Homo sapiens: one gene and its partners. The protein of the gene in region 1 interacts with the protein of each later gene in a pairwise test. Each region holds a gene or a part of one and is shown in the gene's direction. Other genes may lie near its edges.

Evidence for each region. Proteins that work in one complex are often made in the same cells at the same time.
Region 2: the proteins of TRAPPC6B (region 1) and TRAPPC8 interact in a two-hybrid assay, tested with the Homo sapiens proteins (one study listed by BioGRID).
Region 3: the proteins of TRAPPC6B (region 1) and TRAPPC10 interact in a two-hybrid assay, tested with the Homo sapiens proteins (one study listed by BioGRID).

Annotation. Positions count from the first base shown.
Region 1 is NC_000014.9:39,152,964-39,161,131, reverse strand, and holds part of TRAPPC6B (trafficking protein particle complex subunit 6B), read left to right. Parts: intron 1-1,581; coding exon 1,582-1,649; intron 1,650-2,729; coding exon 2,730-2,847; intron 2,848-3,215; exon of another isoform or gene 3,216-4,010; intron 4,011-6,837; coding exon 6,838-6,921; intron 6,922-8,168. UniProt on the Homo sapiens protein: Component of a transport protein particle (TRAPP) complex that may function in specific stages of inter-organelle traffic.
Region 2 is NC_000018.10:31,904,238-31,912,405, reverse strand, and holds part of TRAPPC8 (trafficking protein particle complex subunit 8), read left to right. Parts: intron 1-2,645; coding exon 2,646-2,739; intron 2,740-2,761; exon of another isoform or gene 2,762-2,822; coding exon of another isoform or gene 2,823-2,862; intron 2,863-3,392; coding exon of another isoform or gene 3,393-3,395; coding exon 3,396-3,652; intron 3,653-3,987; coding exon 3,988-4,103; intron 4,104-4,795; coding exon 4,796-4,946; intron 4,947-8,168. UniProt on the Homo sapiens protein: Plays a role in endoplasmic reticulum to Golgi apparatus trafficking at a very early stage. Maintains together with TBC1D14 the cycling pool of ATG9 required for initiation of autophagy. Involved in collagen secretion.
Region 3 is NC_000021.9:44,015,032-44,023,199, forward strand, and holds part of TRAPPC10 (trafficking protein particle complex subunit 10), read left to right. Parts: intron 1-8,168. UniProt on the Homo sapiens protein: Specific subunit of the TRAPP (transport protein particle) II complex, a highly conserved vesicle tethering complex that functions in late Golgi trafficking as a membrane tether.

The DNA of each region.
Region 1 (8,168 bases):
AAAACCTAGCATGGAGTACATTATGTGCATTTATAATAGCTATTTTAAATATTGTAGTGTCAACATTCAAAAATTAATTCTTTTACATTCGCAAATGGTGGGGAGTCTTGTCATTAAGGTGTGTATAACTTAGAATCCACTTGGTTTTCTCCTAACTGGACTGCATTTGTTTTCATAGTAGTAAAATGTTATGTGTATTACACCTTGCATAAGTCCTCATTCTACTACGTGTTAACTAACCCTCTAGATGATAATGCAGATGCTAACTGTGGGATTTTATTTATAAGAACTCTAGAATAAATACCAGTTATTCCTACCAACATCGGCTGTTACTAATATTCTGAAGTAGTTAGTGCAACTTTTCATTGTGTTGTGGTTGGTCTCCTAAGTAGGTTGGATTTTTCTCCTCTTCTAAGAGAAAACAATAGTGAAATTATTTTCTTTCTCTTTTCTCTCTGTTTCTGTCTCTTTCTCTCTCTCTTTCTCCCTTCCCTTCCCTTCCCTCCCCTCCCCTCCCCTCTTCTTTTCTTTTCTTTCTCTTCTCTTCTCTTTTCTTTCTTTCATGGGGTCCCTTGCTCAACCTGTTGCCCAGGCTGGAGTGCAATGACATGATCATGGCTCAGTGCAGCCTCAACTTCCTGGACTCAAGCAATCCACCTGCATCAGCCTCCAAAATGGCACATGCTACCATGCCCAGCTATTTTATTTTTACTTTTAGTACAGATGTGGTCTTGCTATGTTGCCCAGGCTGGTCTTGAGCCATTGAGCTCAAGTGATCCTCCTGCTTTGGCCTCCTAAAGTGCTGGGATTACAGGCATGAGCCACCGTGTCTTGAGGGGTTTGTTTCTATTAAAAGACTTGGTGTCAGGGAGGAGCACAAAGCTTTAACCCATTGAACCTCTGACAGTTAAGATGGTGTTGGGTTAGGTTACATCTGGTTACTATCCTGGGAAAATCACTTCTATAGAGATGGCCTTCCAAGTGGTTTTAAAATGTATCTTTCTGTCTGGGCGCGGTGGCTCACGCCTGTAATCCCTGCACTTTGGGAGGCCAAGGCAGGTGGATTGCTTGAGGTCAGGAGTTTGAGACCAGCATGGCCAACATTTTGTATTTTTGTATTTTCTCTACTAAAAATACAAAAATTAACCAGGCATGGTGGTGGGTGCTTATAATTCCAGCTACTTAGGAACCTGAGGCAGGAGAATCACTTGAACCCTGTAGATGGAGGTTGCAGTGAGCCGAGATGGCCCCACTGTACTGCAGCCTGGATGACAGAGCGAGACTCCATCTCAAAATAAATTAAAAAAATGTATCCTTCTATTGAAGTTTTTAGGTTAATCATGTATATGTTGACTAAATTATGAATTAACTTGTTTATCAAAAAAAAAGTAAAAAGTAAAGTAAGTAAAAGTAAAGTAAAATAAATAAAATCAACCTTATAATTCACTTTTTCTTAAACTGTTTCAGGGAAAAAAGTATAAATGTTTACATTAATATTTTTAACCAATCTTGTAAAACAATTTCTGAATACTAACATCCTAGCATTCTAAAAGTATTTAAAACTATTGTTTTTTAAAATAGGAAAACGGACGATGTATTACTAAGCTGGAAAACATGGGGTTTCGAGTGGGACAAGGATTGATAGAAAGGTGAGCAGGTTGGATTTGAAAATTTTCTTGCAGGTAGGTTATAAACAAAGGTGATCTATTTCAAAAGATTGCATAAAACTTGGGATATTTTAATTTTAATTCCTGAATGTTATTCTCTTTACTTCAAAAATTAAAATTTCTTTTTAGATCCAATGCCATTTAACTCATTTATTCAAATTTTATTTTAATGTTTAAAGAAAATATATATTTTATATATTTTAGACTTTCTTCCTGAAGCTATTTTAGACTTTATTCCTGAAGCTATTGAAGCAACTATCTAAAATCTTACTGCATTTTCAACTTAAGATCTGCTAGGTTCTTTAACCTGCATAGAATTTTTAAGTACATAGGTTTGAAATAACTATAGTCTATGTTTATGCGTGTAATTATCTTTGAACTTATAAATCAGTTCTTTTTAGTATTTCTTTCTCACTACCTGAATAGTTAAACTCGGAGTATATTTTATATAACAATGTCATGATAATGCTCAGCTCTTTGTTCTTTTGTGGTTTTTTGATGTGCTAGAATGCATTGCACCTGAAATTTTGGCTATAATGTTAGACTAATTTGAGGCCTCATAATTTATATAACATAATGTGAATCCATTGAGATAGGATCATGTTACCTGGTGCTTATGACTTTATTAGTGTTAATAAATGTTCAGCCAGGTGTGGTGGCTCATGCCTGTAATCCCAGCACTTTGTGAGGCCAAGGTGGGAGAATCTCTTGAGCTCAGGAGTTTGAGACCAGCCAGGGTAACAAAGTGGAACCCTGTCTCTACAAAGATATACAGATTAGCTGAGCATGGTGACATGTGCCTGTGGTCTCAGCTGCTAGGGAGGCTGAGGTGGGAGGATAGCTTGAGCCTGGGAGGGAGGTAGACGTTGCAATGAGCCGAGATTATGCTATTGCACTCTAACCTGGGCGACAGAGCCAGAATCTGTCTCAAAAAAAAAATTAAAATTAAAAAACCCAATAAATGTTCAGTGCTGTTCTGGCATTTGGAAATTAGTTAATAATTAGTCCCTCTTGCTTTTTTTGGAGGAGAAATACTGTATTACTTCTAGTTGATCTTTTTAGGTTTACAAAAGATACTGCAAGGTTCAAGGATGAGTTAGATATCATGAAGTTCATTTGTAAAGATTTTTGGACTACGGTATTCAAGAAACAAATCGACAATCTAAGGACAAATCATCAGGTAATTAAATTAATTAAGGCCTATATTTTAAAGTCCTTTAACTTGATATAAATATCGTATTTTAGTGACTTATTTAAAACCTAAAATAATTTCTGGTTAACTTTGGAATATGTTTATGTTATTAATGAGTTATTAGTTTTTTTCTTCTAATAGTGTGAACTGAGTAAAGACAAAGGGACAGTTATCAGTAATGATAGCTGTTCCTTTCACCCAATTATATGCTATGTTAAGTTTTTTAAAGTAGCATAAGTCAGGATGAGAATAGCTTTTACTATTTGGTTCCTTAGTTACTGTTAATTAGTGGTAATAATATGCAGAACCACAAATATATCACCTTTATGTCTTTAGAGTCATTTCTTTTTTTTGAAGAAGAAGAATTTGGATTATTTTAATTATTTTTATATACAGAAAACTCAACAGTGTATGTTTAACCCAGTTTGGTGTCAAGTTCTTTAGCCTTTGCCTTTTCCTGCTTGACAATTCAAGCCACAGACTTGAGACCCAGGACATTGCCTCCCCAGTGACAGTGGATTTCGTTTTGTCTGTCGTAATTGGTTCTGATAGCTTCCACCAGCTGAACCTAAGCTCCATTGTCCTCTGAGTTAATCTGTGTAAAGGCGACAGTGGTGCGGGTCTTCTTGTGGATTAGACATCCCAGTCTTGCCTTCCCCTTGATAATGCGGTAAGGGACCCCCATTTTATGACACAAGGCAGGCAGGAAGACAGCCACCTCGATGGGATCCACATAGTGTGCAGTCACCACCAGCTGAGCCTTCTTGTTCTCCTCCAAGGTGGAGATGGTGTTAACTCCTGCTCGGAGGACAAGTGGTCTCTTAGTGGGGACATCCCCTTTGCCTGCAGCTTTCTTTTCAGCCCGGGCCAATAGCCTCTGCTTATTTTCTTGCTTTGTCTTTGGTCTGTACTTGTGGGCCAGCTTAAGCAGCTAAGTAGCTATTTGGCGGTGCAGGGCCTGGGTGAACTGGTTAATTGTAGGAGGCACTTTCAGCTGCTTACAGAGGATGGCTTTGTGCCACTGCAACCTGATATAGCGGGGCCATTTCACAAAGTGAGTGAGGTCCATATTGGGTGGATGTCCTGTCCAATGCCAGAATTCTTAGGCCTTTTCTCAAACAGGGGATTCACCACTTTCTTTCTTTCTTTTTTTTTTTTTTTTTTTTGAGATGGAGTCTTGCTGTGTTGCCCAGGCTAGAGTGCAATGGTGCGATCTCGGCTCACCACAACCTCCGCCTCCTGGGTTCAAGCCATTCTGCCTCAGGCTCCCAGGTAGCTGGGACTACAGGCATGTGCCACCACTCCGGCTAATTTTTGTATTTTTAGTAGAGGTGGGGTTTCACCATGCTGGCCAGGCTGGTCTCGAACTCCTGACCTCAAGTGATCCGCTTGTCTCGGCCTCCCAATGTGCTGGGAGTACAGACGTGAGCCACCACGCCCAACCAGGATTCACCACTTTCTTGGCCTCCTGTTTCTTCATGACACCAAGGGCCAGAGCCACCTCCTTCCTCTTGGCCTTTCCTTTTGGCATCTTGGGTGGCAGGAAGAGATTCTTTATAGTCATTTCTAAAGTCTAATTTATAGAGCATTTTACTCTTAAATAACTCCTGGATTATTACTGCTGTCATATTTTCTACTCTTAAAAGATTTTCTTACTACAAAATTAATAGATTACATAGAAAACTATGTATTTATTAAAATTTTAAAAGGGAGACAGAGTCTCGCTTTGTTGCCCAGACTAGTCTTGAGCTCCTGGACTCAAGTAATTCTTTGGCCTCAGCCTCTTGCATAGCTGGGATTATAGGCATGCACCACCACTCCCAGCTTCATTAGATTTTATTTTATGAACTTCAAGGAAATACTTAGAGTAGATTTGGAATTTTGATTAAGTAAAAAATTAAATGTATCTGGTACTCTCAATAGGATAATTCATTTATTTATTTATTTTTAATTAGAGACAGTGTCTCACTATGTTTTCCAGACTGGTCTCAAACTCTTGGGCTCAATGGATCCTCCCGCCTTGGCCTCCCAGAGTTCTGGGATTACAGGTGTGAGCCACTGTGCCTGGCCTGGAATTCATTTTGTACCAACTTTAGCTTGGAATTACTGGAAATGCTAATAGGAAGAAATGACTATGATTTTTTTACTCTCTAGACATGATTTACTAATATATATCAGCTGGCTGGACATGGTGGCTCATGCTTAGAATTGCAGCATTTTGGGAGGCTGAGGCAGAAGGATTGCTTGAGCTCAGGAGTTGGAGACCAGCCTGAGCAACATACTTAGAACCTATTTCTACAAAAAACTTGAAAAAAATTTCACCAGGCATATTGGTATGTGCCTGAGGTTTCAGCTACATGGGAGGAGTTCAAGGATACAGTGAAATACTACACTTTTGCCTGGATAACAGCAAAATTCTGTCTCTTAAAAAAATAAAGCTGGGCGCGGTGGCTCACCCCTGTAATCCCAGCACTTTGGGAGGCCGAGGTGGGCAGATCACCTGAGGTCAGGAGTTCGAGACCAGCCTGGCCAACGTGGTGAAACCCTGTCTCTACTAAAAATACAAAAATTAGCCAGGCATATTGGCGCACGCTTATAGTCCCAGCCACTCAGGAGGCTGAGGAAGGAGAATTGCTTGAACCCGGGAGGCAGAGGTTGCAGTGAGCCTAGATCACACCACTGCACTCCAGCCTGGGCGACAGAGCAAGACTCTGTCTCAAATAAACAAATAAATCCGGGTGCGGTGGCTCACGCCTATAATCCCAGCACTTCAGGAGGCCAAGGCGGGTGGATCACCTGAGGTTGGGAGTTCAAGACCAGCCCTGCCAACATGGAGAAACCCCGTCTCTACTAAAAATACAAAATTAGCTGGGCGTAGTGGCGCATGCCTGTAATCCCAGCTACTTGGGAGGCTGAGGCAGGAGAATCACTTGAACCCAGGAGGCGGAGGTTGTGGTGAGCTGAGATCGAGCCATTGCACTCCAGCCTGGGCAACAAGAGTGAAACTCTGTCTCAAAAAAATAAATAAATAAAAATAAAAATTAGGTCGGGTGTGGTGATCATACATGTAATTTCAGCACTTTGGGAGGCTGAGGCAGGAGGATTACTTGAGCCCTGGAGTTCCAGACCAGCCTAGGCAACATAGGGAGACCCCCTTTCTACAAAAAATTAATAAAACTAGCCGGGTGTGGTGGCATGTGTCTGTGGTCCCAGCTACTCGGAAGGCTGAGGCAAGAGAATTGCTAAACACCCAGGTGTTTGAGGGTGCAGTGAGCTGTGATTGCACCACCACACTCCAGCCTAGACAACAGAGTGAGAGCTCATGTCTAAATAAATAACTATACAAACAAACAGCTTATTTCATGTGGACATGTATTAATGATTCCATCGTACTAGACTATGAGTTTTTAAGGATAGGGACTATGTCTCAGACAGTGTTTTTATCTTCAGTGTATAAAACCGTTCGGTATACATTAGTGTTGTGAAAATACTGAACTCGCAACTCTTCAGCTTGAACATTGCAAAACTCCTTCATTTAAACAAAATTTGACCAGGCTGGGCACGTGGGCTTATGCCTGTAATCCCAGCACTTCGGGAGGTCAAGGTGGGCAGATTGCTTGAGCCCAGGAGTTTGAGACCAGCCTGGGCAACATGGCGAAACCCCATCTGTACAAGAAATATAAAAATTAGCAGGGCATGGTGATGCACGCCTGTAGTCCCAGCTACTTGGGAGCCTGCGGTGGGAGGATTGATTGAGTCTGGGAGTTGGAGGCTGCAGTGAGGCGTAATTGTGCCACTGCATTCTACCCTGGGCGACAGAGGAGACCCCGTCTCAAAGAACAGAAAAAGAAAACTTGGCCAATGGGAAGGAGACTTTTAATAACTTTAAAAAACACTTAAATTGTTTCATAAGAATAAAATAATTTTAAGGACTGCTAGGTACATTGACTTTGGATTTTTTTTCTATTTTTGGAACAGGGCATCTATGTACTTCAGGACAACAAATTTCGCCTGCTTACTCAGATGTCTGCAGGAAAACAGTATTTAGAACATGCATCTAAGGTATTTAATGGAATAGAAGTTGGGGTTTTTGTTAATAGTAGGACTACAGGGAAAAGTACAGTGCTAATCATAACAAACTATTGAATTAAAAATATGTTTTAAGGTGTTCTTTTTTGTTTAAAGAGTTTTCTATGAAATGAGAGACATGTTACAATAACACTAAACTGTAGCTAAATAGTCATAGAGTGACCAATTAAAGAAACACTGGCCGGGCGCTATGGCTCACGCCTGTAATCCCAGCACTTTGGGAGGCCAAGGCAGGTGGATTACCTGAGGTCAAGAGTTCAAGACCAGCTTGGCCAGCATGGGGAAACCCTTTCTCTACTAAAAATATGAAAAATAGCTGGACGTTCTGGCGAGCGCCTGCAATCCCAGCTATTCGGGAGGCTGAGGCAGGAGAATCACTTGAACCCGGGAGGCAGAAGTTGCAGTGAGCTGAGATCGTGCTATCATTGCACTCCAGCCTGGGGTATAAGAGCAAAACTCCATCTCAAAAAAAAAAAAAAAGAAAAAAAAGAAACACTATAACTAAATGACAGTGAAATGTAGATGTATGGTAGATCACTTTTTTTTTTTTTTTAAGACAAGGTCTTGCTCTGTCATCTAGGCTGGAGTGTAGTGGTACAATCATGGCCTATCTTGACCTTGACCCCCCCGGGCTCAAGTGATCCTCCCACTTCAGTCACCCAAGGAGGTAGGACTGCAGGTGTGGGCCACCATGCCTGGCTAATTTTTAAAAAAATTTTTTAGAGATGGGATCCCACGATGTTGCCCAGGCTCGTCTTGAACTCCTGGGCTCAAGTGATCACCTCACCTCGGCCTCCCAGTGTGTTGGGATTACAGGTGTGAGCCACTGCATCCGGCCTGATTGCCTATTTTCTATATTTTTGGGGTATCCAGGCTCTAATTACATTTTTATGGTTAATGTGTATATTTTCTCTCTTTTTTTTTTTTTTCGGACAGAGTGTGAGACTCACTGCAACCTCTGCCTCCTGGGTTCAAGTGATTCTCCTGCCTCAGCCTCCTGAGTAGCTGGGATTACAGGTGTGCGCCACCATGCCTGGCTAATTTTTTGTATCTTTAGTAGAGACAGGGTTTCACCATGTTGGCGAGGCTAGTCTCAAACTCCTGACCTCGTGATCCACCCACCTCAGCCTCCCAAAGTGCTCGGATTACAGACGTGATTACAAAAGCCACCCAAAATGCTGGGATTACAGCCTCCCAAAGTGCTGGGATTACAGACGTGA
Region 2 (8,168 bases), on another chromosome or scaffold:
AGTTCTCCTCTCTCAGCCTCCCAAGTAGGTGGGACTACAGGCGCACACCACCACGCCCAGCTAATTTTTGTATTTTTAGCAGAGAGAGGGTTTCACCATATTGGTCAGGCTGGTCTCGAACTCTTGACCTCAGGTGATCTGTCCGCCTCAGACTCCAAAAGTGCTAGGATTATAGGCATGAGCCATCATGCCCAGCCTCTTTCGTACCTTTTTAACATGCTTTTATAGCCACCTTCAGGAACTCATACTTTTTAGGTGGGTGGGCATTTCCCTCCAACTTTCCGTTGATTTCCCTTCTTTATGTACTCTCAGGAGTTACTGTTTTTTAATTACTCCTTTCTTAACCTCGAGTTCTAGAATAAGATTGATTGTCCTATTGGCTTAAGTTGATGGGCGTTTGATGTTTTGTCAGACTTCTAAGGTACAATAGTATGCCGCTTGGTAGTAGTCAAATGCCAAGTTCCTATGCTTAGTTCAGATAATCGAGAGTCACTGTTTTTTGTTTAGAAGAAAATTTTTTTTTTTTTTTTTTTTGAGACAGGATCTCGCTCTGTCGCCCAGGCCTTGGTCTCCCAAAGTGCTGGGATTACAGGTGTGAGCCATCATGCCGGCCTAGAAGAAATTCTTTTTTTTTTTTTTTTTTTTTTTTGAGACGGAGTCTTACTCTATCGCCCAGGCCGGAGTGCAGTGGCATGATCTCGGCTCACTGCATGATCTCGGCTCACTGCAACAGCTGCCTCCTGGATTCAAATTATTCTCATGCCTCAGCTTCCCGAGTAGCTGGGATTACAGGCGCCCGCCACCACGCCTGGCTAATTTTTGTATTTTTAGTAGAGATGGGGTTTCACCATGTTGTCCAGACTGGTCTCGAACTCCTGACCTCAAGTTATCCCCCTGCCTCAGCCTCCCAAAGTGCTGAGCCACCACACCCGGCCAGAAATTTTTTTTTTTTTTTGAGACGGAGTCTCACTCTGTTGCCCAGGCTGGAGTGAAGTGGCGAGATCTCGGCTCACTGCAACCTCCACCTCCTGGGTTCAAGCGATTCATTTTTAGTCGAGACAGGGTTTCACCCTGTTGGCTAGGCTGGTCTTGAACTCCTGACCTCAAGTGATCCACACGCCTCAGCCTCCCAGAGTGTTGATATTACAGGCGTAAGCCACAGCGCCTGGCCTAGAAATTCTTAAGTAAATGGAAAATATATTTATATTGTTCAATTAAACTATATTATGCACTCTGTGTGTGACATTTAAAAAATCAATTACAAAGCTTATGTAATTTTTGATCTTCTGATATAAGTATTGTTTAATCTGTTTATTTGCTTTATTTTTCTGTCTCATAAATGGAATCTTTAAATCTAAATGTAGTGCTATCATGGTATTTTACTGACTTTAGTATTGAGGTGATTACTGACGTTCTTTAAGATAATGCTGGGGAAAAGCAAAGAAGTACCAGTTGGATGTGAAGGAACTTTATTTTTAAAAATGGTCTTTTAGGGGCCATTCTAAGAATAAGAACAGTACTGAAAAAAATACACTTTAGAGTTCAGTCACCTAAGGTTGTGAAGGGGAACATGAAGAAGATTGTGCAGTATGAGAACTTTTAGCAGAAAGCAGAAATATCAGAAATCTATGCCTTAGCATCCTAGAAGCTCAAAGTTGGAGAATAGTTTAGAGGTTTTACATCCAATGCTTGATCTAATGCTTTAATTTCTTTAAACTTACGAATGACTGCGTCTGTTGACAGTACTCACTGTATTCTTATTAAGTGACCTATTGCATGTCTGATCACCCAAAAATTCTCTCATTTTGCTTAAGGATCAATAAAAAATTCTTGACCTTTGCTTGTACGCTTGATCCTTTGGGAGTGACTATGTTAGTTTTCCATTAAGACAACTTTCAAAATATAGAAGGATAATTCTCATGTCCTCTTTTATATTTTTCCAGTCTAAATATGCCTAGTTTCTGCAACTCTTTCTCAAGGAGTGGCTTCAGACTTTCTTGTCCTGGTCACTTTCTTCTTGAGTTCTAGTTTATGTAAATTCCCTCAAAGTGTGACACTCAGAATAATACATCATATTTACTGGTCTTGTAGAGTAGTCTGGGTATTTTTAGTTTAAGTGTTTTTTTGTTAACTGAGAAACCAGTTCCTTTGCACAAATAAACGTTGCGTTAGATATTTTTCTAAAACACTTCAGTATATTCAGAATTCACTCCAACCTGCTTACACTGTGACCCAAAGAATTTCATATCTGTGCCTCTCTTCTTTCCCCGTCTGACTCTAGTAGTCCATCTCTCTTGCCATTATTCCTTACTTAAGAGGCATAAGCATATGTATGTGCTTATATGAACACTCGTGTATATACATATCATATATAAGTAGATATCCTGAGAGATAATTTGAATTAAGAAGAATTAGGATAGTAGCTTGAGTGTGAAAGGGGATTTAAGAATATAGTAGGTGTGAGTTGGAGTGATAGAATAAGATCCATGGAAGAAGTTATGAATTTGGAGGACGAGAAAATGCTCACTGTAGCAAATAAATGAGGCCAACAGTTAGCAGAGTAACCATAGTTGTTGATGGATTTGATAGTATATTAAGTATGATTAAGTATAACTGCTAATGCTTTTTAAATTTTATTTTGATAGGAATCATATGAAGATGGCCCTTGTACTATAACTTCAAATAAGAATTCTGATAATAACTTGCTTTCATTGGATGGATTAGATAACGAAGTCAAAGGTCTTGATATATTTTCTCTAAGTTTCTCTTTTGATTGAAAATATGCACTGTTGTCAGATCATGCTAACCTTTATAGATAAAAGATGGGGGAAATTTTTCATAATACAGAAAGATATTGGGCAGGTTAGTTTTTCTTCTGAAGATTTTACTGAGCTACTTGAGTTTGTTTTTGACACTTAAAAATTTGTTTTATATGAGTAGTGTATAGATTTCTTTTAAAATATTTTGTAGAAAGCAAGGGAAGATGTGATGCACAGCATTAATTATTTAAAAATTTACATGATTTTGAGAGCTTTATTTCTGACTTTATGATTTTTGTAATGATAACAAATTTTTTTTGTTATATTTTTTCTTACGGCTTAGTTGTACTATTTAAAAGTCATTCTTTATATTATTTAAAATAAAGTATTTTTCTCCATTTCCTGGTTTATACCGATTTTCAAATTACTAATACAGGTACCAAAACAAATATTAACTCAAGCTCATTAATTTTGGGGCTGGGGGATGTTACTGCTGTTTTATCTTAGACATTTACCTATACTGAAAGATAAAGGATTTTAACATTCTGCTTTTTTTTTTTCTTTAGCAGTATGGTAGTATTAGCACTGTTTTCTGTTGCATTCTGAGAGTAAAAGAAATAATCTCTTTTTCAGTAGATGGCTTACCAAATAACTTTAGAGCTCACCCACTTCAGTTGGAGCAATCCAGTGACCCTTCTAACAGTATTGATGGCCCAGATCATCTAAGATCTGCTTCATCGTTACATGAAACAAAGAAAGGAAATACTGGAATAATTCATGGTGCATGTTTAACACTTACTGATCATGATAGAATTCGACAGTTTATACAAGAGTTCACATTTCGGGGCCTTTTGCCACATATAGAGAAAACAATTAGGCAATTAAACGATCAGGTAAGGTTTGATTTTTTGGATTAGTATTTTAAAAATTTAAGTAAATAGTAAATTTAAGAATTATTAAACGTATTTGAAGTTTTGTTTTATTTTCGTTTTAAGATAGGCCAATATTAAGACTTCCCAAAATTACTATCAATGATGAAATTCTGTTCAACTCTAGAAGAGGCTTATTCATTTTCAATAGGATTTTGCCAGCATATTGGACAGTTTTCTTTAAATCAGTTTTATTAAAATGAACATTTGCTATTAAAGCTTTTTAGTTAAAATTTTTTTATGTAAAGGAAAAATACTAAATTCTTTGTTTGTCAACATATTTAATCTCTTTTTTAAAGCTAATATCAAGAAAAGGTTTGAGTCGATCTCTATTTTCTGCAACTAAAAAATGGTTTAGTGGCAGTAAAGTTCCAGAAAAGAGCATTAATGACCTGAAAAATACATCTGGCTTGCTGTGAGTAAAGTGTTATCATTTTTGTTTTTCCTCTGTTTAACTCTCTGACTAGTGTTTGATTGTATATCCTGCAGAAGATAACTATCTCTTTAATTTCTTAGTTTCTTATTGGTGAAAATTCAGGTGGATAAGAAGAGTGACTCAAGTAAATCATATTAATTTTTTAAAAACTAAGTAATTGGACATCTAAAAACAAATGGGAAAGTCACTTTTGGTCTGTTTCCTTATTTGTAAAACAATGAAGTTAGACTAGGTATTCATTAGTAACCATTCTATATCTAAAATGTAATGGCCTGATGATTCTAAGACAAGGGACACATTTAATAAATTTTGCTTTACACAAAAAACCATTTTAAGGAAAAAATATAATTAATCCATTTTGGATTTTAATCTTTCTCCTGGTTGTATATAAATGTGAGTCACTTGGAATTAACCATTTACTTCATTATTTGACCATGGAGAAAATGTTTGCCTGCCATTCAGACATTCTCAGGGCTATAAATAATAAAACAAGGAACTTTCTGTTTCCAGGTATTTTTGAGAACTGACACTCTTGTTGGAGGTAGAATTTCTTTGAAACAGCATTAGTTTTCTTCATATTCTAGAAGAACATGGCAGCTTGTTAATGTATTTTATAATTTTAATGGTTTGGGGGGTAATAAATTATAAATTATTTTCTTTTGTATTTACAGGTATCCGCCGGAAGCACCAGAACTTCAAATCAGGAAAATGGCTGACTTATGTTTTTTGGTGCAGCATTATGATTTGGCTTACAGTTGCTATCATACTGCAAAGAAAGATTTTCTTAATGATCAAGCAATGCTTTATGCAGCTGGTGCCTTGGTTGGTATTCTATGGTATTATAATTCCTTAATTCTGCTACCATAAATTATTTAGAAATTTCTCTTGGTGGCAAACAGAATCCTTAGGGATAAAGTTGTACTCAAAGAGCATATAGTACTTTACAGATTGTTAATTCCTTAATGCTGAGTTGATGGATTTCCCTCAGACTAGTTGATTAGCTGGGTATGGTGGCACATGCCTGTAGTTCCAGCTGCTTGGGAGGCTGAGGCAGTAGAATTGCTTGAGCCCAAGCGTTTGAGACCAGCCTGAGCAACATAGTAAGATTGCATCTTTAAAAATAAATTGAAAAAACTTATTTCTTAAAAACAAAACCCAAAAAACTAGGTAATTAAAAAATGGTCATGTATTAGGGTTTCTTTCTTTATTAGTACTTTCCAACTTTTGCATCAGCTTTCAGAATTGTATTTCATTTTCTAATATATTTAAAATACAAAAATTTTTTTAGAAGTTTTTTTAAACCTTGACAAACATTTTTAAGTTGCTTGATGTATGACTTCATACATCAAGAACATGTACTTTGGTGTGAGACACTCTCTCATCTTAGGCAAGTTATTGAATATCTCTAAGCTACAGTTTTCTGACCTGTAAAATATGCGAATCCTAATGGTATAGGATCAGATAAAGTATAAAGCATGCACTTAGCATAATGCCTTATATATAATAAGCTGTCAGTAATATCAGTTGTGTTAGTTTTGTAATTGATTACAAAGCCAGGTATTTCCAAAGAATTTGCTATACTTGTTGCCTAAAACCTTTTAATGTTTTTGAAAAGTTACCACAGATATATGTGTAATCTGCTTTATGTGTTCAGAAAAGAGTAAAATTAGCACTGTTACTTTTTATTTAATCTTTTAAAAGACATGTAAGCTTATAAACAAAAGTGAAGAAAAAAGTTTATAAGAATAATTCATAGGTAATTGTGTAGATACTTTTTTTTAGCTAGAAAATATTCACAGGCTGACAGATACTTGTTTAATAACTGGCATTTGTTTTGCATTTATTTTAATACTGTGCATATATAAAATATGTAACTTAAAAATGGAAGCCAGAATAGCAAAATTATATTACTATTGCTTTCTGGTTCTCTAATTTTTTAATGAAAAAAGTCAGCCCACTTTTTTTTTTTTTTTTTTTCCTGGAGACAGAGTTTCAGCTCACGGCAACCTCCACCTCCCGGGTTCAAGATTCTTGTGCTTAAGTTTCCTGAATAGCTGGGATTACAGGCATGCCCGACCATACCCATCTAATTTTTTTTTTTTTTTTCGTATTTTTAGTATAGACAGGGTTTCGCTGTGTTGCCCAGGCTGGTCTCGAATTCCTGACCTCAGGCAATGTACTGTGCCCGGCCAACCAAGTTTTTAAAAACCTTTCATAGAAATGGAAAATATGCTATGTTCATGAGAAGTGTTTGAAAATATAAGTGAATTTTCCTTGGCTAAATATTCTCTGATTGCTCATTATAGTCATCCAATTTAAGCTAATATGAAATCACAAATACTTCATGTTATTATTAATACCTTATAACCTAGGTATGCATTTGTAATGAGAAATTTTTATTTAATGTACCTGCAAGTAGAATGTTTGATAAAAACTACATTTAAGCCATTCAACTGGAAGTATTAGTAGCTATTTGAGAGAAAATAATATAGCACTGGAAAATAAAGGCATATTTATTCTTAGATGATATATGTGCACCTGAAAATCACTTAGCCTTTAAAAGCTACCCTAAAAATAATGGGCTTCTGAGAAAAGTTAGACTGGGTTAGTCTTCTTGAAACCTATTCATCTTTGTAACCAGAGCACAAACAAAAACATTAAATGGTACCTTGGAAGATTACCTAAATAATCTAGATAGGCAGCTTAGCATGGCTGAGGATACCTCAGGGAATATAAAAAATAATTTTTTTATAGAGATGGGGATGAGCAAGAAGAGTTCCCAACCGATGGAGCTGCCATGAAGCTGATCATAGAAGAAAGTACAGCCTGCCCTGAGCCCAGAGCTGTGCAAGGCTGGTGGTGTACTTCTCTGGAGACACAGTCCATATGCACCAAAGTGTAGGCATTCAGTTTTTAGCAGCTGAAAGAGCGCCTTTCTGTGCAGCAGCTGAGCTCAGGGCTTTTTCCTTTCCTACTGAAGGATATAAGTTTATAATACTGCTATTTTTGATTCCCTTGCCTAAGAAAAATTATGTATGAATAAAAATTTAATTTGAACTGATATCACTTCCCTTACCATTCACATGTTAACTAATTGATAAGATAAAAATGTGTTGTAGTAGAATAGACTAGATCGTATGCCTTTTTAGATGAAAATTATAGAAGATATTTAGTCATAGTAACTACAAAGGCAAAATAAATATCACAGCAAAACCAGTAATAGGAATGCTTGCAGACTTTTTTTTTTTTTTTGAGATGGAATCTCACTCTGTTGCCCAGGCTGGAGTGCAGTGGCTTGATCTCAGCTCACTGCATCCTCCACCTCCTGGGTTCAAGTGATCCTCCTGCCTCAGCCTCCCAAGTAGCTGGGATTACAAGCATGTGCCACCACTGCCAGCTGATTTTTGAATTTTTAGTAGAAATGGGGTTTCACCAAGTTGGCCAGGCTGATCTCGAGCTCCTGACCTCAAGGGATCTGCCTGCCTCAGCCTCCCAAAGTGCTAGAATTACAGGCGTGATCCACTGGGCCTGGCCAAGAAAACATGTTTTAGAGCTGTACGATATTTTGTCACATGGATATTATGTATTTTATTTAGCTTCTTCAGTGAATTTTAGAGCAGATACTGCTGAGTGCTGAGGATACAGAGGCATTCTAAAATAGATATCGTTCATATTGTCATTCATGGAACTATCAGGTTAAAGGCTTTAATCATATTTCAGTTCTCAAATCATTATTTGTTTTTTCTTCTATTTTAAAAAATGTTGCAGAGAAGTACATTTGTTTGTCTTAAAAGTGAATTATGGCTTTCCCATCCTGCTATTCTCCCCTCTCAGCCTCCCGAATAGCTGACATTACAGGCATGTACCACCACACCTGGCTAATTTTGTATTTTTAGTAGAGACAGGGTTTCTCCATGTTGGTCAGGCTGGTCTCGAACTCCAGACTTCAGGTGATCCACCCACCTCGGTCTCTCAAAATGTTGGGATTACAGGCGTGAGCCATTTCCATTAAAACTTAGGTTCTTTTTTCTTTTTTTTTTTTTT
Region 3 (8,168 bases), on another chromosome or scaffold:
TTGCTTTAAAAAAATCCACCCAGAGGCTAATTAACCCTTAACTTTTTAATATTATGTACATAGTTCTCTTAGTAGGCAACATTTTTGTTTTCAAAAATCTTTTAAATTCTTACTTGAAATGGTATTACCTCAGATCTGTTCATTTTAAAATGAAAGTAGAGTTTATGCATGTTGTGAATTTTTTTTCCATAGAATGTATAATATTTTACTTCAGTGAAAATGCATTCTGCTTAGACCTTTCTGGGAAGAATATAGAATGTAACTGGTTCAGGTGAATTTAAAAACTGTGTATATGTAGGGATAGAAGAATGAAAAGTTCCCAAAGATTAAGGGTAATTAGAATAGATTATTACTTTAAAACCTAGCTGATTATTTCACTTCATTTTATTATTATTATTTTTTTAGAGATGGGGTCTCGCTCTGTCACCTAGGCTAGAGTGCAGTGGCATGGTCATAGCCGACTGCAGCCTTGCTGGGCTCAAGTGACCCCTCCCTTAGCCTGCCAAGTAGCCAGCACTACAGGTATGACCCACCTCACCTGGCCTGAATTATTTTAATAATATTTTGAAGCTCTCCAAATTTTTTTTTTTTTTTTCTGTCTGAGACAGAGTCTTGTTCTCTTGCCCAGGCTGGAGTGCAGTGGCGCGATCTCGGCTCACTGCAACTTCTGCCTCCCGGGTTCAGTCGATTCTCCTGCCTCAGCCTCCCAAGTAGCTGGGATTACAGGCGTACACCACCATGCCCACCTAATTTTTGTATTTTAATAGAGACACAGTTTCACCTTGTTGGCCAGGCAGGTCTAGAACTCCTGACCTCAGGTGACCTGCCCGCCTCGGCCTCCCAAAGTGCTGGGATTACAGGCGTGAGCCCCCGCACCTGGCCCTAAATGTTTTAATAGACTTTAGCCCATAATTAAACCTCCTGCCTAACGGGCTCCTGTGAAGAGGGACTAGCACAGTAGGGGCCTTCTTAAACTCAGAACTAGTTACAGCTTGTAAATACTGAAGAGTGTATGTGAAATGTGCAGGGATGGGAGCTGAACAGTTAGTGGAACTAATGCTTTGACGGGGTTGGGTGATGAATGACCGAATCATAGCAATAGGAAAACTTGTAGTATATTTTATTAATCATGAAAAATGCCTGGCGTAACTGAAACAAATCCAGCAGATCCATTTGGTCTAAATTTAAATTTTAGCGTAGATTTGTTTTTCAGCCACAGGGTCAGTTTTCTGTTTTGAAATAGACTTGGGTTTCTGTTCCAAGGGTGTATTAGGAAAGACACGTTCCTTTTCCAGCCATCTCATTCAGTTAGTGACAAAGTTAATGTAATTCCAGTGATTTGTGGCTTTTCTTTGTTGACTGTCCTCATACCTACAATAGCACATACCTGTTATTAGCTTGGAATTGAATTTCTCTGAACAATAATAGTACCCTCCCTCTAGGTGATCTGTTCTCATTAGTCACATCTGTTGCCTGTTTCATTTTTCTGAGTTTCTGTATTTGGGGTTCCAGGTCTGATATTAGAAACTTTTAAAGGGGAAAACAGGCAACAGAAATGAGCAGATATGTAGAGCTTCGTGTCTGGTTGGACTTTGGGATTTTCCCCTGTAGGTTAAAATTTTTTTAATTTTAATTTTTATTTTTTGAGACGGAGTCTTGCTTTGTTGCCCAGGCTGGAGTGCAGTGGTGTGATCTTGGCTAACTGCAAGCTCCGCCTCCCGGGTTCACGCCATTCTCCTGCCTCAGCCTTCCGAGTAGCTGGGACTACAGGCGCCCGCCACCACGCCTGGCTAATTTTTTGTATTTTTAGTAGAGACGGGGTTTCACCGTGTCAGCCAGGATGGTCTTGATCTGACCTTGTGATCTGCCCGCCTCAGCCTCCCAAAGTGCTGGGATTATAGGCATGAGCCACCGCGCCCAGCCAGGTTAAAGTTTTTAAATTTGCACATTGAAATTTTCTACTAAACCTGAAAATGTGGTGCTTGCGATTTAACCATCACTAGTTTTACTACCAGAAAAGTCACTTGAAATGTCTGTTTAAATGGGTGAATATGTTATAAATGCAGATTTTGTTTCATATTGAATTCTCAAGGCAATGTTGAACCAAAGATTGAAAAGTAGGAGAAACATTCTTCTTAGGAAATCGCAGTTGTTGCAGAGAGTATGTATTTGGAGGCGGGGACTAAAGGCACCAACAAATGTGCTTAACTTACTATGTCATTTCTACCCGAGCATGGTTACAAACCATTCCATCTTGTACGCATGACCTCGGTTCTTACATAATTTCACAGACCCTTAGCTGTGAAACGGGTACAGTACCAACCCCATCGGGTTGAGAAGGGTGTGTAAAGCACTCAGGAGAGTGTCAGGATTATAGTCAGTGTGCAAAAAAAGTTACTAAGGAGAGGTTCCTCAATTTTCTCTGTTCACAATGCTTTTAGTGTCTCGGTAATTTTTTTCATGGCATCTCTAGGCTAAAAGGAATACTTAAAAATTCCATTTATTAAGTAGTTAGATTCCAGTAATTTATTAAATATTATGTCCTAACAAGAGCTGTTTGAAAAAAAATATATATAAGTTGGAAGAAAAAAATATTTTCATCATTCTTCCTAATTGCAGCAGTGTGCTACGTGGGGGGCAGGCCCTGCGGGAGCTCTGTGGCACCTCTCACCTGAAGGTCGGATTGGACGCTGCTTCTCCCTTTGGTTTTTTTTTTTTCTTCTTCTTTTTGGTGGTACTTGCTTTTTATCAGAGCAGCCACCCTGTTTTGCGACGATAATGATGTCATCGAAAGAAGTGGAGCCCTGATCTGATGTTGACACTGTGAATACCTTGTGTGGGGTTCCTACACCACAAGCATTGCTGTTTCCCTCATAAATTTAAAATATCTCTTGGTGCCTCTCTGCGTAGTGTGTGGGAAGCCTAGGTACACAGTTTGGGAACCCGTGCTGTTAGTGTTATTAGCCCAACTCCAGGGTGGATTTGAACTGATACTTTAGAATTGAAAAGCTTCCTTTCTTTTCAGCTCACACACCTACTTTACTACAAGATGTGTTTCTGAAGAGTTTCTAGTAAGTTCTTTATGCAAATGAAATGGAAAGGTCTGATTTTCTTTTTTTTTTTCTTTTTTTCTTAAGTGCTGATGAATCTCTGAAATAATCAAGTATGATACAGCTTGGGCAACATAGGGAATTCCTATCTCTACAAAAATGAAAATAAAAAAGTTAGCCAGGTGTGGTGGTGTGCGCTTGTACTCCCAGCTACTTGGGAGGCCGAGGCGGGAGGATCACTTGGACCTGGGACGTCAAGGCTGCAGTGATCTGTGATTGTACCTCACACTGCAACCTGGGTGACAGAGCAAGACCTGGTCTCAGAAAAAAAAATAAAGGCTGGGCGCAGTGACTCATGGCCATAATCCCAGCACTTTGGGAGGCCAAGGTGGGTGGATCATGAGGTCAAGAGATTGAGACCACCCTGGCCAACATGGTGAAACCCCGTCTCTACTAAAAATACAAAAATTAGCTGGGCGTGGTGGCTCGCGTCTGTAGTCCCAGCTACTCGGGAGGTTGAGGCAGGAGAATTGCTTGAATCTGGGAGGCGGAGGTTGCAGTGAGCCGAGATCATGCCACTGCACTCCAGCCTGGCGTGAGACTCCGTCTCAAAAAAAAAAAAAAAAAAGTATGTCGGGCATAACACATGAACCAGTCTTTCCTTAGAGAGTTTTTGCTGTGTGCTTCCACCAGAGGCCTGCCAACTGACAGTGTGATTGTGTGGCTCACTCTGGCTGAGTTGGTTATCTTTTAATGGAAATACAAATAACTGACTTAAGGATTTTTTTGTCGTAGGAAAGTTTGTTGCCAGTTGACAGAGTGTCTTCCCTGGAGTCGCATGCCTTAGTGTGTAAGTGTGTGGTCTCCAAAGGTATTGCACACTGATCTCCAAGTACTGACCCTCCCACCCCCGTGCTCCACTCTAGACCTGGTGGCTTTAGATCTGGAGTTAGAGACCAGCAACGGCAGAAGATTACAGGGTCTTTTTTTTTTAAGACATGGTCTCACTGTGTCGCCCAGACTGGAGTGCAGTGGCATGATCTCGGCTCACTGCAGCCTTGACCTCCTGGGGTCAGGTGATTCTCCCACCTCAATCTCCCGAGTAGCTGCTTGTGTGCCACCATGCCCAGTTAATTTTTTGTATTTTCAGTAGAGATGGGGTTTCGCCATGTTGCCCAGGCACGTTTTGAACTCCTGGATTCAAGCAATCCGCCCTCTTTGGCCTCCCAAAGTGCTGGGATTACAGGCATAAGCCACTGTGCCCAGACAGCTGCAGGGTCTTAAACAGTCAAAACATTCCCACCTCAGTGCCTGCCTCTGTGGTGGGTTGCCTCAGAGCTTCCTGTGGCTTCCTGTCCTGTGTCTCACCTTCTTTCTTCCTCAAATCTTTCCTCTATCTGCTCTTAATGTCAAATATAGTCACAGTATTTTGGCCTTAGAGAATATTTGTTTTTAAATTAAAAATTGATAACCTTGGAGTCATTTATGACTTCTTTTTTCTCTCACAACTGACATTATCTTTGAAATATATCTAGAATCCAGCTATATATAGGGCCTGCCTGGATAATCTGGGATAATCACATCTTGAGCTCCTGAACTTAATTAAGTCTACAAAGACCCCTTTCCCAAATAAGGTGACATTCACAGGTTTTGAGGGTTAGGATGTTGTGGGGCACCATGCCACCTGCCGCACCACTGTCTGTGTTAGCTACCAAGCGCGCAGTGGCCGGCATTCATCAAGCGTCTTTGGTTTTAGACAGCTGCGTCTGTCTTTGGAGGTTTGTCCTTCGTGTACTCCTGACCGAGGGAATGTTATCTTGACATTTGGGCTTCTGGGTTCTAGATGTGGTTACAAGGTGGGGTGATCCCTTCTTAGGAAAAGTCCAGCCTCTTCTGTGCTCTCTCCCTTATGTGGCTTTTTGGACATTTGTTACATGGTGTTTAATTTCTGAATATTATTTTAGGCCCCTGTTTGCAATTTTTTTTTTTTAACAGTGACCAGGGACCATTCCATTGTATGTTTGGACATTTTTCTTTTCTTTTCTTTTTTTTTTTTTGAGACAGAGTCTCGCTCTATTGCCCAGGCTGGAGTGCAGTGGCGTGATCTCGGCTTACTGCAAGCTCCGACTCCGCCTCCTGGGTTCACGCTATTCTCCTGCCTCAGCCTCCCGAGTAGCTGGGACTACAGGCGCCCACCACCACACCTGGCTAATTTTTTTGTATTTTTAGTAAGGATGGAGTTCACCGTGTTAGCCAGGATGGTCTCGATCTCCTGACCTTGTGATCTGCCCGCCTCGGCCTCTCAAAGTGCTGGATTACAGGCATGAGCCACCGCGCCTGGCCCATTTTTCTTATTTTTAACTGAGATCTGTTAGCAGTTTGAAGCGATTGTATACATTTCAGAGTTAGCTGGGCATGGTGGTGCGTGCTTCTAGTCCTAGCTACTTGGGAGACAGGCCAGAGGATCGCTTGAGCCCAGGAATTTGAGGCTGCGGTGAGCCATGTTTGTGCCACTTCACTCCAGTCTGGGCGACAGAGTGAGACCCTGTCTCAAAAAACAAAAAACAAAAAAAAACAATTTCAGGGTTGAAATTTTTAGCAGAGCCTTGGAACTGACAACCACCTGTTTGGATAGTAACTTTAACTCAATCTGTAGCTTGCCATTTGTGGGCACTGTCAGTTCACCTAGACCAGTCAGCAAGCTCTAAACATCCAGGTTAATGAGAAGGGCCGTCAGAAGTCATTTTGAAGTTGAGGAGCTGAGGGCTGGTTTTGCTGTGACTGGCCATGATCAGTGTAACTGTTTAGTAGCACAGCTCGGACCAATATTAGCATGTCTGATGACTCCTGCTTTACCAAGTACTTAGGGAAGGCAGACACCATCTGTTCACATGGAAGCAGGGAGTTTGTCCCTAAAATTATGCTTCTGAGAAAGCCTTTGCCATATAATTAAATAAAAATGTCACTTTAGCATTCTAAGAATTGAGTAAGTAAGCTATACACTAGAAATTTTTAGTATAGTCTTATTCCAAAATTAAATTCCTATTCTGAGAACTTGATACCCAGCACTGTCTTTGCTTCTCCTGTAGTCTGTTCTGTCCTTTGGGGATCCTGGGTTGTCTAGTGTGGAGTATGGAGGAGTTGGGCTGTTTTCATCAGTGAGCAAACATTTACGGAGGACCTATTACATGCCAGTTACTGCTGAAGGGGCTTGGGTTATGTCAGAGAGCAAAGATCCCAACCCTTTGAGAGTTTACATTCTGTCAAGAAGAGATAGACAATAGACAAATAATGTTAGGTGACAAGTGCTATGGAAAAAAGAAAAAGAGAAGGATAAGGGAAATGGAAGAACTGTAACATTTCACATATTTTATTATAAAAGTGCAATATGTATCAAAGTAGACAGAATATTATAAAGAGACCCTACAAACCTTTCACCCAACTACAGCAATTAGGTGAACTGCCCAATCTTGCTTCTCTATACCCCTCATTCTCCCCAGTCTTATATTATTTTGAAGCAAATCTCAGACATATAATTTATCCACGAATGGATGTTATGGACTGAACATTTGTGTCCCTCCCTACACACCGAAGCCCTGACTCCCAGTGTGCTAAGAATAGGAGATGGGCCTTTGAGAAGTACCAGGGCTAGATGAGGTCAGGAGGGTGGGCCCTTTATTATTGGATTAGATGAGGAAGAGTGAGAGGACACCTCCCCCTTGAAACGAGGAAAGGCCACCTGAGGATAACAGCAAGGAAGTGGCTGTCTGCAGTCTGTAACACAGGCCTCACCAGAAACCTAATCTACTGACACCTTGATCTCGGGCTTCTTGACCTACAGAGCTATGAGAAAATACATTGCGATTTTTTTTTTCTTTCTTAGGGTCTTTTCAGAGAGAAAACAAAAAACTGTTTTCTAAGCCACCCAGTCTATGGCATTTTTTTTTCTTTTTAAAAATTTCTTTCTTTTTTTTTTTCTTTCATGGTATTTTTTAATTACACCTAAAACGTTTCTTTCTTTCTTTTGTTTTTGTTTTTGTTTTTGAGATGGAGTTTCGCTCTTGTTGCCCAAGCTGGAGTGCAGTGGCACAATCTCAGCTCACTGCAACCTCCGCCTCTCGGGTTCAAGCAACTCTTCTGCCTCAGCTTCCCAAGTAGCTGGGATTACAGGCACATGGCACCATGCCTGGCTAAATTTTTTTTTTTTTTTTTTTTTTTTGAGATGGAATTTCACTCTTGTTGCCCATGCTGGAGTGCAGTGGTGCGATCTTGGCTCACTGCAACCTCCGCCTCCCAGGTTCAAGCGATTCTCCTGCCTCAGCCTCCCGAGTAGCTGGGATTACAGGCGTGTGCCACCATGCCCAGCTAATTTTTTTTTTTTTTTTTTTTTTTTTACAAAGACGGGGTTTGTTAGTAGAGATGGGGTTTCTCCATGTTGGTCAGGCTTATCTCGAACTCCCGACCTCAGGTGATCCGCCCACCTTTGCCTCCCAAAGTGCTGGGATTACATGTGTGAGCCACCATGCCTGGGCCTAAAACGTTTCTTAATACCAAATATTCAGTGTTTAAGTTTCCAGTGTGTCTTAAATGTCCATTTTTAAAACTGTTTGAATTAGTATCCAAATACAGTTTTTAGATAAATCCTTTAAGTCTCTTAAAATCTTCATGTTCCCTCTGTCTCTTTTTTTTTCTTTATAACTTGATGAACCTGGCTCATTTGTCTTGAAAAGGTCCCACTGCCTAGACTTTGGTAGTTGGAGCTGGAGGCTGGGTCAGCTTCAGGCTGGATTTTTTGTCGGCAGGACTTTATCATGGGTGTTGCTGTTCTTCCAGCAGGTGCGTGATGTCCGATTACCTCTCCTTTTGGAAATTGGCAGCCATTTATTTTCACATCACTAATTCCCTAAAGGTTGCAAAATGGTGATATTCTCATTTCCCTATGTCTTTTTTTTTTTTTTTTTTTTTTTTTGAGACAGAGTCTTGCTCTGTCGCCCATGCTGGAGTGCAGTGGCTCCATCTTGGCTCACTGCAAGTTCCACCTCCCGGGTTCACGCCATTCCCCTGCCTCAGCCTCCCGAGTAGCTGGGACTACAGGTGCCCGCCACCACGCCGGGCTAA